Regions from separate parts of the Homo sapiens genome. Here region 1 is linked to region 2. The links come from fine-mapping of genetic effects on gene expression. A gene starts in region 2. The other region holds a variant in brackets. All regions are shown on one strand. Distances are from middle to middle.

Region 1 (2,900 bases), 62 kb after region 2:
TCTCTAATAATAATAATAATAATAATAATAATAATAATAATAGTAATAGGCCGGGTGTGGTGGCTCACGCCTGTAATTCCAGCACTTTGGGAGGCCGAGGCGGGCAGATCACGAGGTCAGGAGATCGAAACCATCCTGGCTAACATGGTGAAACCCCGTCTCTACTAAAAATGCAAACAAAAAATTAGCTGGGCGCGGTGGCGGGGGCCTGTAGTCCCAGCTACTTGGGAGGCTGAGGCAGGAGAATGGCGTGAACCCAGGAGGCGGAGCTTGCAGTGAGCTGAGATCACGCCACTGCACTCCAGCCTGGGTGATAGAGCGAGACTCCGTCTCAAAAAATAATAATAATAATAATAATAATAATAATAAACATTCTTACAATGAATTTCCATGCTGAGTTGGCACTCCCATCACACAAAACTGTTGCTGAGAGTGGTTGTTTCACTTAAGGTGACCCAGCTAGTCAATGTAGTCCATGTCTGATAGTACAATTTCAGGCAGTACTACAGACTTCTGGGACTATTCTTTTTAGGAGGGGCTCTTCTCTGAGCAACTCTTTAAGTCACAAACCTCTTTGCACCCTCCAAAGCATCAACTTCAAATGAAAACATTTATCAACTGTCTTCAGTGTTCAAGACACTGGTAGGTCCTGGAGGCTGAAAAAGGAAGTGGTATCTGCCTCCCAGGGTTTGCAGTCAAACCAAGAGCCATATTTGGAGCAAATGGGGAGGTTTGATTAAGTGCCAAATAAGAGTGTGGGGGGCATCATGGGAAGTGGGGAGGAGGAGGGAACTTCTAAAGGGGAGAGGTGTTCCAGCATGGCCTTCTGAGAAGGGTCTGGAATCAGAGAGATTCAAGTTAGCTGCTGGAGGGTCCCTTCCTTCCAGCTGGTTGTCGCTGGGCCACCTGTGCCAAGAAGTGGCACATCCAGCCATTCATGTATCCACACAAACCTGTGTCGGCTGAGCTCCCACTGTCTGGCAGACTCTGAGAGGACTCCCTCAGAGCTCCCATCTCATGTAGCCATGGCCCACTCTACTATCTGCTTTCCAGTTCTTAATCCTGGGTCCTGGGCCATCCAGATTGGGAGGCGCTCTGAGCAGCATGTCTGCTCTTCACTTTACCCCACTCTAATTAAATAAGTGGTTACTTACTTATCTCCCTAGAGAGAAGAGGTTTTAGGGTAGGGAGTGTATCACTTAGGAATGCTTTTGGATGCATGTAACAGAAAACACCATCTACAATAACTTTAAACAGAGAGATTCATTTAATCACTTCACAAGAGGT[T/C]TCGGAAGTGGCAGCAGCTGCTGGTCTTTGCTCACTGGCTCAACAGCATCAAGGTATTCTGTTGCCCTCTTGGCTTGTCTCTTGTCTTATGGTTAAAACAGGGCTGCTATAGCTCAAGACATCACATTCAAATGCAAGGGAGGAAGGTGGAGAAAGGAAAGGGATTGGTGCCCACTGAGTCTATCTCTTGTAAGGAAGACAAATGTCTTCCCAGAGCCTGTAGCAGACTTCTGCTTATTTCTCCTTGGTCAGACCTGGGCACCTGTAACTTCAAAAGAGGCTGAAGAAGCAAGTGTCTCACCTGAGGCTGGGAACATTGCCACTCTGTGCAATGTGGGAGTTTATTATCGAAGACAATGGGGGAATGAATTTCAGGGAGGCAATCATGTTAGCCACAAAGAGAGCTGGGGACTTCCTTGTATAATCCGAGGCACTGAGCTCCTGCCCCCAGCTCCTGCCCAAGAAACTTCTGGACAGTCCCTACCACTGAAACGTCAAGCTGCTTCTTCCTAGTCTGTCCTTAGATGAACCTTGAGAACATTATGCTAATTGAAGTAAGCCAGTCACAAAGCTACCCTACTGTCCTCTTCCCTCCAGCACATGGAATCAAACACCAGCCTCCTCACCCTCCCTCCCTGACTCAGCCAGGAGGCTGTTCTCCTGGTTTCTGCTCAGTTTCACCCACTGTGGAGCCCCTCTGGGAAAGTTAAAGGGAGGGAGAATGAAAGAGGAGGGAGAGTGTTAATTAAACACCAGATGTTTAACTCTGTTAATTAATGGCTCTGTCACCCTGAGTGGCAGCAGCCTTCTCTTCTCTGTCTCCTTCACCCTCACTATTCTCTTTTTCTCTGGAGGGCCTTGAGTTTGAAGCTAAAGAACTCAACATTTGTTCAATGGGGCCTTGAGACCAGCAAAGGGTAAAGGGAGAAAGCTGGCTAGGGCAACCCAGGAAGAGCGGGTTCCCTTGTCCAGGAGGGAGGCATGGACATTTTGGCAGTAGGAATGGAAAGAAGGAACAGTGGGAGAGAGAGACCAAAGCCCAGAGGTCACAGAGAGACATGTTTTGTTTGGTGCACATAGGGATTTCAAAAAATGCAAGTGGTTGCAAGCATTTAAACATGGGAAAATTTTCACATAAATCTAGATGTGCAGATCTTCTTTAAAAATAGGCAGGTCTGGGCCTGTGTCCTCACACAGCAACAGTTAGCTGGTGGAAAGTAGAGCTGCGTAGCTGGTAGCTGTCCTACCCAGAAGAAACGTGTGTCCTCCCATCCTCCTCTGCCCCCACCCCACATACTTGGCTCATATGTCACATGTCACCTGCCATCCCATCTGGGGTTGGGATCCACTGAGGTACAGGTGCCAGGACTCGACAATGGGTTGCCTATAGGAGAAGACAGAGAGGAGAGCCTGAGAATGTTGAAACGTGAGTCAGGATATTTGGGGAAATTGTAGGACCAATGACAGAGATGAGGAACATGGGAGGAGCAGGTTAAGGGAGAAAAATGGCAAATTTATTTTGGGCAGGCTGCAGTAGTGATGCCTGGATGACATGGAGACAGAGGCGGCCTGGTGGTCTGGAGTCCGGAAGAGAAGGGCTGGCAATCTGCGGA
Region 2 (2,900 bases):
CAGAGCTCATTGTCCTTGTTGATAAAATGATAGATTTGGACTCAATATCCCATGCTGCCTCTTCCAACTTGATTTTTACCCCAGACTGGGCTACCAGACTGGTATGCCCACACATGCCCGTTTCCTTTCTTTTCTTCTCTGCATCTCTGCCTTTGTGTCCAGAGCGTGTTTTCCCTTTGCAAGTTTCTCTCCATTCTGCACATTATGAGTTTCAGCATTTCTGTTGCCCTAGAAAGTCTATCTTTGAGATCTTGCACTGTTTCTCTTTTTACAGTGTCTCATAAACTCCCTTCTTGGATTCAGAACCACCCTTTCTTTCCCATTATCCTGTCAAACTGCTTCTTGCCATGGTCCAGGGGTAGGAGGATGGCAGGCAGGAGGTGCTTCTCTGGGGCTCTTAGTGTCTCAATTCTTCTGCTTTATCTGGGTTTTCCTTTACCCAGAATTTTATTATGTAAAATGCTTCACTCAGACTTTGTTCTAATTATCCAATTTTTGGCATACTCTAGAAAGTCTTTTGATATTTTCCTTCCTCCAACTTATCTATTTTTATTTCATAGTTCTCTTTGGTTATCTCTTAGAATCACACTTTCCTGGTTTTAATTTTTCAAATCCTTTGTCTTTCTCACTCGTTCTTAGGTCACCTTTTTTTACATTTTCAAATATATTTTTTGTTCAGCAGAGGGCTCCCTTCCCATCCCTCTTGCAGCCCGGGCAGCTAGGATTTGAAGCTTGCCCCTTGAATCTTTCTCTCCCGCCTTCTAGCCATCAGAAACACTAGATCACTTAAACTTGTAAACAATTCGGCCTCGCTCCTTGTGATTGCGCTAAACCTTCCGTCCTCAGCTGAGAACGCTCCACCACCTCCCCGGATCGCTCATCTCTTGGCTGCCCTCCCACTGTTCCTGATGTTATTTTACTCCCCGTATCCCCTACTCGTTCTTCACAATTCTGTAGGGTGCGTATTACTAACCCCAGTTTACAGCTGAGGAAACTGAGGCTTGGAGAGGTTCGCTCGGTATCGTACAGTTTGCAAGGTTAACCCTAATCCGGCCAGTTCTGGCTTTCCAGCCCAGCCCAGCAGCCTAGCCTCCCTCTCTGCCGCTGCAGGTTATAACGGCTCTCCCCCGTTTTACACGAGGTCCCTTCCCCTTCAAATCCACAGGCAGGAAGATCGTTCCGAACTGACGGGGCTGGGGAATGTGGGAGTCCGGAGTGGGGTTTGGGGGAGCTTCCTCAGGCCCTGAGTGTTGGGGTGGGCAGGCCGCGCCGATGGCCCTCGGGGATGTCACATTCGAGATGGGGTGACCGAGAACGGCAAGGCGGGATGTGGCAAACGGCGGCAAGTGCTCGGAGTCCTAGGTCTTGCCGCCGGAATGCCGGCCGGGGAAGGGGCTTCGGCCCACCGGGCTGGTCACCACACTCGGCAGGCCCGGGGCGGGAGTCGGCCGAGCAGCCGCGGGATGCAGGGCGCCCCCTCGCGCTCCTCCGCGCGCCTCGAGGCTGGCGGGTGCAGCGCCCGCCGCGGCAGGTCTGCTCCAGCCCCCTCCTCTTTTTCGCTCCCGCTCCCCTCCTTCTCTCCCTTTGCTTGCAACTCCTCCCCCACCGCCCCCTCCCTCCTTCTGCTCCCGCGGTCTCCTCCTCCCTGCTCTCTCCGAGCGCCGGGTCGGGAGCTAGTTGGAGCGCGGGGGTTGGTGCCAGAGCCCAGCTCCGCCGAGCCGGGCGGGTCGGCAGCGCATCCAGCGGCTGCTGGGAGCCCGAGCGCAGCGGGCGCGGGCCCGGGTGGGGACTGCACCGGAGCGCTGAGAGCTGGAGGCCGTTCCTGCGCGGCCGCCCCATTCCCAGACCGGCCGCCAGCCCATCTGGTTAGCTCCCGCCGCTCCGCGCCGCCCGGGAGTCGGGAGCCGCGGGGAACCGGGCACCTGCACCCGCCTCTGGGAGGTGAGTCCCGGGAGCCCCGGGCGCTTCCCCTGCGCGGGTTGGGGCTGCAACTTGCAAACTTCAGCAACTCGGGTGGGTATCGGGGTAGAGAGGTAGGGGTCCGGGCTCTGGCAAGTTGAAGCCAGGTAGGTGAGGCTGCGGGCGGGAGGACAGGGGGTCCCCTGGCTTCCGCGCCTCCCGCTGCCACCTCGGCTTGAGAGCCCTCATCGCTGCTGCGTTCCCGCCGCCAGCCAGCTTGGGTCCGGGTTGCACTGGGCCCTGCCAGGGCTGTGGTCGGCGCATCTGGGCTGCAGCGGCGATGGGGACCCGGGACCCAGGCCTGGAGAAGGAGACGGACGAGTGAGGCTGAGGGACGGAGGGACAGAGGTGCGGAGATGGAGGCTCAGAGAGGGCCGGCTAGTAAACAGCACTGAGGGAGAGTGCGGGCGGCGAGGCGCGTGGGAACGCGTGGCCCGCCCAGAGTGTGAAATCTCCCGCTCAGGGACGTCCCTGCTCCACCGCCGCCGCCTGCGGAGCCGCCGCCCGGATTCTTCCCAGACCCGCCTCCAGGACACTCTTGCCCTGACCAGGCCTGCGGAGCGTGAACTCTGCCCACCAGGCTCCAGGGGCAGTGGCTCAGGGCCCCGCACTCCCGGCTGGGAGGGTGGAGAGGGGTGCGGCAGCTGGAAGCAGGGACGCGAGCGGCGATTTCCCGATTTATGTTTCTCATGGTAATTTGTCTTTGTGGTTGGGGCTGCCCATTCACTTTCCGCTCACGTCCTGCGGGAGATCCAGCGAGGAGGGAGGGAGCGGGGGGCGCTCGGGCACAGAGAGGGATGCAGACGGGAGAGGGGATCGGGGACCCGCGCGGGGCGGGAGCCAAGAGGGAAGTGGTCGCCGGACCGGCGGAGGAAGAAGGCGAGGCTCGAGAAAACCCGGCCCAACGGAGCCGACTCCTTTGCCCACCGCAAACTTTAAAC

Evidence for each region.
Region 1: its variant is fine-mapped to the expression of SEMA5B in gastroesophageal junction (GTEx, PIP above 0.99).

The regions. Positions count from the first base shown.
Region 1 is chr3:122,964,006-122,966,905 of GRCh38, reverse strand. The region is part of intron 1 of SEMA5B (semaphorin 5B); the gene reads left to right. Among named protein-coding and RNA genes, the nearest start is that of SEMA5B, 62 kb to the left of the region's middle. The variant T/C (reference allele first, on the strand shown) is at 1,288.
Region 2 is chr3:123,026,505-123,029,404 of GRCh38, reverse strand. SEMA5B (semaphorin 5B) reads left to right here and starts at 1,642. Exons shown (of 23, transcript NM_001031702.4): 1 at 1,642-1,941. RefSeq lists an enhancer at 531-1,038.